Regions from separate parts of the Homo sapiens genome. Here region 2 is linked to region 1. Evidence: fine-mapped expression QTL. A gene starts in region 1. The other region holds a variant in brackets. All regions are shown on one strand. Distances are between the middles of the regions. Region 1 holds the start of FOXP1 (forkhead box P1). Region 2 overlaps FOXP1 (forkhead box P1).

The links. PIP is the estimated chance that this variant, and not a neighbour inherited with it, causes the effect. A credible set is the group of variants that fine-mapping cannot tell apart.
Region 2: its variant is the best candidate, but not a certain one, in a credible set for the expression of FOXP1 in whole blood (TOPMed, PIP 0.69).

What each region holds. Positions count from the first base shown.
Region 1 is chr3:71,581,620-71,585,956 of GRCh38, reverse strand. FOXP1 (forkhead box P1) reads left to right here and starts at 2,229. Exons shown (of 21, transcript NM_001349338.3): 1 at 2,229-2,386; 2 at 4,260-4,337. It overlaps FOXP1-DT (FOXP1 divergent transcript), which reads right to left and starts at 1,014. Exons shown (of 1, transcript NR_182289.1): 1 at 1-1,014. RefSeq lists an enhancer at 1,745-2,039 and a silencer at 2,117-2,356.
Region 2 is chr3:70,950,698-70,955,088 of GRCh38, reverse strand. It overlaps FOXP1 (forkhead box P1), which reads left to right. Exons shown (of 21, transcript NM_001349338.3): 21 at 1-381. Among named protein-coding and RNA genes, the nearest start is that of FOXP1-AS1, 340 kb to the left of the region's middle. The variant C/A (reference allele first, on the strand shown) is at 2,494.

The DNA of each region.
Region 1 (4,337 bases):
ACAGCTTAGACTGTGAGCTCCTCAAGGGCAGGAATTTTTATTTTTTCATCCCTCTGTGCCCACTCTGTGGTCTAGCACACAGTGGGTATGTCATTAATCCCTTTATGTCTTGACAAACAAGACGTCGAACCCTAGCCTCTAGGAAGCTAGGACATTCCATACAAACTAAAATGCATTTTATTGGTCTAGATTCTAGTCTAAAAGATTCAGTGAATAGTCTTATCTGGATAGCATGGAACTTTATGCAGCATGCATGCAATGTGAATTCTACCAGGCTGAAATTACCTTAGCAGCCTCCCTTTCTTTTATTCTGTAGCATCAGCGAATGGCTTTGTTATTTTTTTTTTTTAACTTGCGAAAGATACAATTTCAAAGCGATAGTCTTATGCCACCCTTGAAATTAAGATTTAAGTTCTTCTGTAAATTAATGTTTAACAATATTTGTAAAGGGGCATTACGCGAAAGAATTTAATAATAACCTTTTCAGGATATTATCTACAACTGTGCTGGTCTCAAGACCAAAGGGACAGTAAGCCTCTCCCCTCCCCGCAAGGGGAAGTACTTTGTAGGAATCCACAGGGGTGACTTTTAATATATTCTCATAAAGAATTGGCCTGGTGTACACCAGCCAGCCAGTAGCTGGAAATGCTGGTTTGGGAGTCTGGCCACTTCTGTGGTGGTGGGTCTGAAAAAATTTACTTCTGTTAACAACAACAACAACAACAACAACAAGACATAGAGGTCTTACAGCTTTCCAAGTCACGTTTTGGAAACACATACTCTGCTTCCTTCTCTATGCGTATTGATAAAAGTGAAAGAAATACTAGTGTCTTTTGTTTTATGTATGTATATTTCAAAACATTTAATTCAGGCTCTTAGTTTATTCCTTCGAATTTCTAAATTCAACCAAACTTCAAAAACCGCAAAAAGAAAAAAAAAAATCTCACCTTTTCAAAGAATTGGACAAAGCTTTTTGCACGTGACTGATCACTGGGAGAGCAGGTAATTTGTGTTAAACAACGGACTGACATGCTAGCCCCCAGGCGTTTTCCTAAGAGGAGTCGTGGCAAGAACACAGTTCCTGATGCAGCCACCTTCCCCCAAAGTGGACTCGATTGCACATTCCTGCAGTGGCTCTGACAAGGGGGCAGAAGCTCGTCCCACATTCACACTCTCCTGATTCCGAGAAACAGGGGAGAAAACCCCTCGCTGGCTGGCGGGGTTTCTGTTTCCTTGCAAACAGGGGTTTGTCCTTCTGCTGAACTTTCACCTCCCGAACTCGCCTTCTTTCATTGGACAAAGTGCAGAAAGAAAGAGGAGAGACCGAGGGAGGACGGGAGAGAGGGAGAAAGGGGGTTGAAAACACCACCTCCCACCCCGCTCTCCTTCAACTGTCACTGATGGCAAAACACTTTCACTTTTAACTGGAGGAAACTCACATTCTAGCCTGTCCTCTCCCCTCCCTTTCATATTTTTAGCTCAGAATCCAAGCAAATAGCCATCGCATTCCCATCTTCGTCCCTAGTTAACACTCTCCCTTCTCGTTTTTTCCGCTGTCTGAATGGGCCCCCCATTTCCCATCTCCTGAGGAATCTCCCCCTCCGCCCCCCTGCCCCTTATTTTCCAGGTCTTTCCTGCCAGATCCCTCTGTTGCCAGGGACTGCTCTGGCGTTCCCTTCCTCTCTCTGGTCCGCGGGGCTCTGCCTCCCTCTCCTCTTTCCAATCCTGCCTGGACGCCCCTCACTTCCCCCTCCCTGGATCCCTCCCCCCAACCCCCCCCCCCATTCTTTGGCAATTGCGATTTTTTTTTTCTGGGAGCCCGGTTGTTTACCCAGCAGGTGGATGTGACGTCAGGGACGCACAACAGCAAAAAATAACAACATCTCCCTCCGCGACGTGTTGGCCTCTCTCGCGCGCCTTATTTATTTATTTGTTCCGGGATGTCGGGGGGGAGGGGGGAGGGAGGAGGGGGGTGGGCGCCAGCGCCCCGGCGAACGGCAAAGAGGGAGCCGCTCCCGCTCGGGGGGCCGCTGGAGTGCCCAGCGGGGTGCGTGAAGCGGAGAGGGGACCCCTGCGGGAGGTAGAGGGTCGGGCCGGGGTGCGCCCCCGGGCCGGTGCTGCCCGCGCCTCTGCCGCCGCCGCCGCCGCCACCGGCGCTGGCTGGGCTCCGGGAAGCTAGTCCGGAGCGGAGGAATCTATTGTTATTTATTGTGTGGCGGTTGCACGCTGTACTCGCGGCGGCCCGGCCCTCGCCCGGGAGTGCGTGTGTGCGCGCGTGTGTGCGCGAGTGAGTGTGTGCGCGGGGTGCGCGCGCGGGCGGGAGTGGGCGCGCGCGGGGAAAGGCCCGAAAACACCTTAGTTTGCACCGAGAGACCATTTGCAGCGGGTGAGTTTGTATTTTTCCATTTCTGCTCCACTTTTTCCCAAGCCGCCTCCTGTCTTGTTTCCGCCACTTTAAACAACAACAACAACCAGCACAAAAAAAAAAAAAGAAAGAAAGAAAAAGAGAAAAAAAATGGAAAAAAAAAAACAACTACTTTCCACCTCCAGGCTCCACGTGCATCTCCCCCAGCCCTCCCCTCTCTTCCTCTCCCCCCCGGGTCGAGGCCCAGCTCTGGGATGGGTGGGGGCTGCGGGCCGGCGCGCGGGTGGAGGGAGCTCCGGCGGCGCCCGCACCCTTTGGGTTTATTTGCATAAGTCAAATGGGGGCGGGGGCGGTGGCGACTGTGAGGAGGCGAGATCGCCTGCCCGTAGGCCCCTTCACGCCTCTCTCTGCGCTCTCCACGATCGCCTAGGGGAGAGAAATCAATAAGCCCAGGCCGCCTGGCGCAACTTTCGATGTCCGGCGTTGGCGTCCGGTGGCCGCCCGGGCGCGGGGCCGGTGCGGGGTCCCGGGTCCTGGCCGCGGCGGGAGGGGGCGCGCGCCGGGCGCCTCCTAGGCCCAAAGTTTAGACTTGGAGCAAACTTTTCCCCTTCTTTCCCCGCGGGTGTGTGCCCCCTCGGTGCCCTTGAGCTGCCCCGCGGGCCCCAGCAAACTGACTGTGGTGCCTGGCCCTGGGCCCCGCACTGGGGAACTTCCCCGCTGCCACGCGCGCGTTACCCCGAGAGTCAGCGGCGAGGAAGCTCTCCCGCCACCCCCTCGGAGCCCGGAAAATTCAAACACGCACCTGCGCACCCCCAGCCAGACACGCACCCCTACGCGCGCTCGGCCTCCGCTTTCCCGAGACGAGTCCGCAACAGCCGTGGCCAGATCCACGGGTGGGTGCGGGAGCCGGATGCGCTGCGAGGAGTCGCCGCGCCCGGATCTCTCTCCCACCATCACACACATTTTCTGATTTTACCCCCCTCTGAAGCTTGGGGGACGGGGAGATTTCCCAAGCTCCGATTTGTCCTGCGTCGCGCGCGTGTCGCCTCGTCCCTCCGGCCCTGTCCTGGCGGCCGATGGCTCTCCGTCCCTCGCTTGCGCGCAGCCTTCCTCCCGAGCTCCCTGCGCTCTATTCCTGTCCCGCCGAGACGACTCCCTGGAGCCAGCGAGCCGAGGCGGCGTGCGCTTCGAGTGGGGACCACGGCGGTGGCGGCGGCGCCGGGAGCCGAGGAGTTTGCCAGTTGCCGCGGGGTCGCGGTCATTTGCTGCCTCCGCCTTCCCTCGCCCCCGCCTCCCGCCTCCCTCCTTTTCAGACAACGTCGCGCTCGGAAACTTAGATTCCTTCTTCTTTTTGGCCCTCGACGAGCCCCCCTCCCCACCTGTTGTGAGCTCCGCCTTGGTCCCGGGAGACTGGCAGTGACACACACGGGCTCTGGGGAGCTCCGCTCCCGGAAACAAAGTCGCATGCCCCCCTCCCATGTGTTTGCTTCGAAATCGCTGCCTGCAGCCCCCCATTCCCGCGCAGCTCCCGCCCCCTGTGAGAATAAGGACTAAATAAACAGTTGTAACTCCAAACCTTGCGCCCGTGATCGTATCCCCATCCCACCCCCTTCTCCCTATTCCTCCCCCCTCCTTTTTGTTGTTGCAACTTTGTGAGATCCTGGGGAAGGTGCTGAGACTTTGGCTCGGGCCGATTTCCCGGTCTCTGGATCCTTGCAGGGATTCCCTGAGCCGCATCCTCTCTTCCCTCCACGCGCACTCGCGGGTCCTCGGAGCCCGCTGCCCTCTCTGTCCTGGCCCCTCGGCCTACTCACCCGTCCCGTCCCCTTCAGTTCCCCCCAGCCTGCACGGGGAAGACTTGCTGAGGGTCGCCCCGGTTTCTTGTCGACTGCAGAACCCGAAAGTTTGTAAGAGGAAGAGAGCGCGCGGCGAGCGAGCGAGCGGGCCGGGGGCAGCGGCAGCGGCGCCGGGG
Region 2 (4,391 bases), 630 kb after region 1:
GAAATTCTGGATGTCTTCAAAGTCAGTTTTGCTTCTTTATCCTGAAAATCAGATTTACAATGCTGAAGGCATTTCTTGGGCCCAGTGTAGCTCACGCAATCTCTGCTACCCATAAGCCTTGATGAAGATGATACAGTCCGGACTGTGAGCATGGTGCTTCATGTATATGTGCTGCCAGTAACAAGAATTTTTTTGTTTTGTTTTGTTTTGTTTTGATAAGGCATAAAAGAAACTCATTCCTTGACATCAACTGTAATTCCATCATTCCATGTCTGCGGATACAGACAATAAAAAAAATGTTGTGTAGTCAGTACTAATTACTGACATTATAAGCATTCTCAAATGCAATAAAAATGCTGGTTGTTCACGCTGGTAGTAAAAGTTGCCACAGCCTAAGTTTGTTTCCCTTTCTGACCTGCTGATATTGTATGTTAGGCATATGCCTTAGGTTTATCACCAGCTGCTTCCAATGCAGAATTAAAATCAATCTTAAAGCTTTCATGATCAGGGAAGGCTGAAGCTCTTATCCTCAGGATTTCCAAGTGAAAGTATCCACTTAGAGAATTGGGAAGTAAAAAAAAAAGAGCAAGAGATGTTATCTTTTCTCTTGAGGAAGCACACTCTTATTTTTTTCATCAAATTTTATAAAGAAAAACAAAATGTTTAATAACTAGCATTAAGAGCAAACTAAAATTTCAGAGGAAAGCAATTTCATGAATAATTCATTAAAATTTCACATCTGCAAGATTAGTCATCCAAATAAAATGCTAATGTCAAAAACATGCACCGTCTATAATATTCTCATCAAGAAATCTTTTTGCATATAATGATAAATGCTTAGATTAGAACAAATGATTTTATAAAAATATTCTATCAAAAGTATGCTAGATAATTGCATTCATTGAAGAAAACAGAACTTCAGTACCTAAATATTCCAGAAAAACCATCTTAATTTTGAGATTTTAAAAAAATAATTAGATGCATTTAGGAAATGTGCTGTTTCTTTTTAATATTACTCTATAGTATATATTCTAGGGATTAATGAATTTGAGCATCACCTTTCAATAAAAAATTAAATTGCCAATATGAAAGCAGTATTTTAAGTGGCCAAACCGTGGTAACATAAAACCATTACATATATAATTCAGAGCACATAATTCAGGGCAAAGGATGACTTGAAAATTAACCTCCCAGTCTTTATTCTGCAAAACACCCACCGATGCTGAGGATACAAGTGAACATTCTTTCCCAGCATTGTTTTGAAAAGCCCATATTAGCAAAGTTGTGTGTGTGTGTCTGTGTGTGTGTTTTTAACAAGTAGATTTTGCTATTAAGTTGCAAACTAGTGTCCTCTTTGAATTAACAATTATGCCCTATCTAGAAACCCCTTAGTCTCAATAATTAGCAAAACATTTGAACCTTTAATTCTCACCTGGCTACTGAGACTATAATCTTAGGGTTAATTCAAATTCCTGTAATTACCAGGCTTAAACCTAAATACTGCTTACAGCCTATACATTAGTAAAATTTAAAAATGTACAGATACTTCTTTTAATAAACTGGAGGACCTAAACCAAGTATGACGATATGTTAGTGAAGATTTTGCTGGTTGAGGCATAGTACATTTTAACTTATATTTCAGGAATTGTTCTCAAGCAGGAACACTCTTTTACATATTTATTTCAGGCTTGTCACTCTCATAAACGAGGCAGCAAACCCAAAATATTGGCTCTTCTTATAAATAGGCGCCTTTATATAAAGAACATAAAACTCTTAAGACTAATTTCACACCAACACAGGCAGCTTCATAATAGTAACCACCTCTCCCTCCCCACTAAAAAAGATAAAAACAAAGTATAATTAGTCTTTCTTATTAGATTTTTGTCTTTGATGATATTACGTATTTATGTGTAGGGTAGTAATCACAATTTATCCTTCATCTTCATTGTAGTTGAATCAAATAAAAGTATTCTTTATTCAAATAATGTGAAGTTGGGTGTCTCAAACCTTCATTTAATGAATTGATGAAAGGTTTAAGACAAAATTCACGTTGGAGGGAAATTAAGTTACATACAAAAACACTGGTTTTAACTGTGGGACAATATTTGGATTAGAAAACCATCTCTAGATATAACCTACTTATATTTATTTTTAAATGGTATTTTATTTTTTAAAATAACAAAACCCAATGTTGTCTTATTTCCACTTTGATTGTAAAATGACATTCAATGCTTAATACCAAAATATATATATATATACACATTTGAAATTATCAACGGTCCTTTTTTTTTGGTTTATATTGAAAATATTGTGAAGGGAAAAAGACAAGCTTCAAGTTATAATGTTAATTTGAAGGTAACCGGCCTTTCAAGAATTAATTTCAGCCAAAGCAATAATCATTATTTACCAGCGTGTGACATTTTTATCACTCATCATATTAGCAAATTTCCATTGAAAATGCTAAAATGGTTCGTCATAAGGCAGATAACTGCT[C/A]GAGCTGTAAAAATGACCAACACAAGTGCCGGTACTCAAACATTAAATTATACTGTAATTAATAAAGACAGTTAAACTGTCTACTAGCAACAGCAATTTAGGTAACCACATTTGATCGGCTATAAATTGTAACTACATTAAAATTCCAGAAATATTAGCAATATGGATTACTTGATGGAAGTCAGTGCTGATCACCAACTCTTTCTTTCTTTCTTTCTTTCTTTTTTAAACAACGGAAGCACAGGTCATGTTGACCACAAATCCGTGGGCGAAGATCAGGCCTTAGCACTTTTAATCTTGTGAAACAAGCAATTACAAATAGTTGCATCGATTTGTTAAAAAGCTTTAGGTGACATAAATTGTTTCCTGTTTAGCTTACTGCTCTGATACATAAATGTCACCAAGCCCAGTATTAATTAGGGCCATAGAACAGCAGAGGGTGGCCGATATGGCATCCAATCAAGAATTTGTCAGTCCTTTGTGAAAGTTCTGAAGGGCTGCTCTCACTGGCTCATTTCTCATTAGTGACAGAGAGAGAAAAGGAAAACTATTTTGTTATGCGAAGTCTTTAATACCAGCTTGATTTTGGGTTTTAAACTAAATCGCAGGATTTCAGACTTGCTTTCTTACTATTGGACATAAAACGCCACATTTTAAAACTATCTTCTAAACAGAATAATATTTACAAGGCATTTCAGCCCCTGAAAAGCTAACCCTTTTTCCCCTTTTCAATATAGGGTACTATACATGTTTCCTTGGGTTTATATTTCTACACTTAAAATACAATTTTAAATGGCTTTTGCACGCTATTGACTTAACATCAATCAAATGTATCATATATACTTTCTTTAGGTTGGCATGCCACTTAGAAAAATATGTGAGATTCTGGAGGAAAAAAGTCTGGAGAAAATTTATTAAACAGAAGTTTTTACTGTAATAGAATATTAATGTAAGCCAATGCTCTTTTGCCATTAAGCTGATCCTTTTTTTTTTTTTCAAACATACACATGCTTTTTATTATTTTGCACTCAAGCAAAAATTCCACATTCAAAGACTTTCCATCTAGTCGGGAATGTCTCTGGCAAGAAACATGTCAAGAAATCCTGACCTCCCGAAAGACATCAGACATCATTCACACTGCGCATTCACCCCACTGGGCAGGGAACACAAGCCCACTTTCCCCAAAACGTAACGTAGATGCTGGTCACCAGTGGGGAAGAGGGGGAACAATTACTCTTTAAATCCTTCCTCACTGCTACTCCACCAGTGCACAGATGAAAAATGTTTGATTTGCAACATAAAAGATTCATTAATTACCACTTGAATATTTAAAGCTATTTTGCAGTCTAACAGAGATAGATAAAGCAGTGAATTAAAACCTCTAATAAAATTGTAAAAATAGTTCGGTAAGTTTACCCGTGTTATGATTTAGGGAGAGATTCAAGCATTCTCGCAGAATAGATTTTAGCATTTTTCAAGCGTGTATTTGAAGGAAGGAGCTAAGTGTTTGGGGAATAATTTGTTTCACATTTTCAAATGTTTACTAATAATTTCTTTTCAAATCAAGCTTGCTACTTTAGGACTCTATGGATAGAAAAAAAAAAATCTGCCAAACAGGTCGGAGCATTATTTGTCTGACCAGAAATTTAAATTCTTTAGAAGTATTCAGCTGGCTGTGTAAGAAAACTGCACATGTACCCCCTGAATCTAAAAAACAAAAATAATTTTTTAAAGTGTTCAGCTGGGCTGAAGGGTTTAGTAGCCATATACATAAAGTACTGATTTCCTTCCCACAAAATGCATCACATCTAAAAACACTCACCTCAAGAACACAGCCTAGCAGTCCCTCCCACCCCTGCACAGCTCCTTCCTTCAGTAGATCCATGATCCATTCAGTG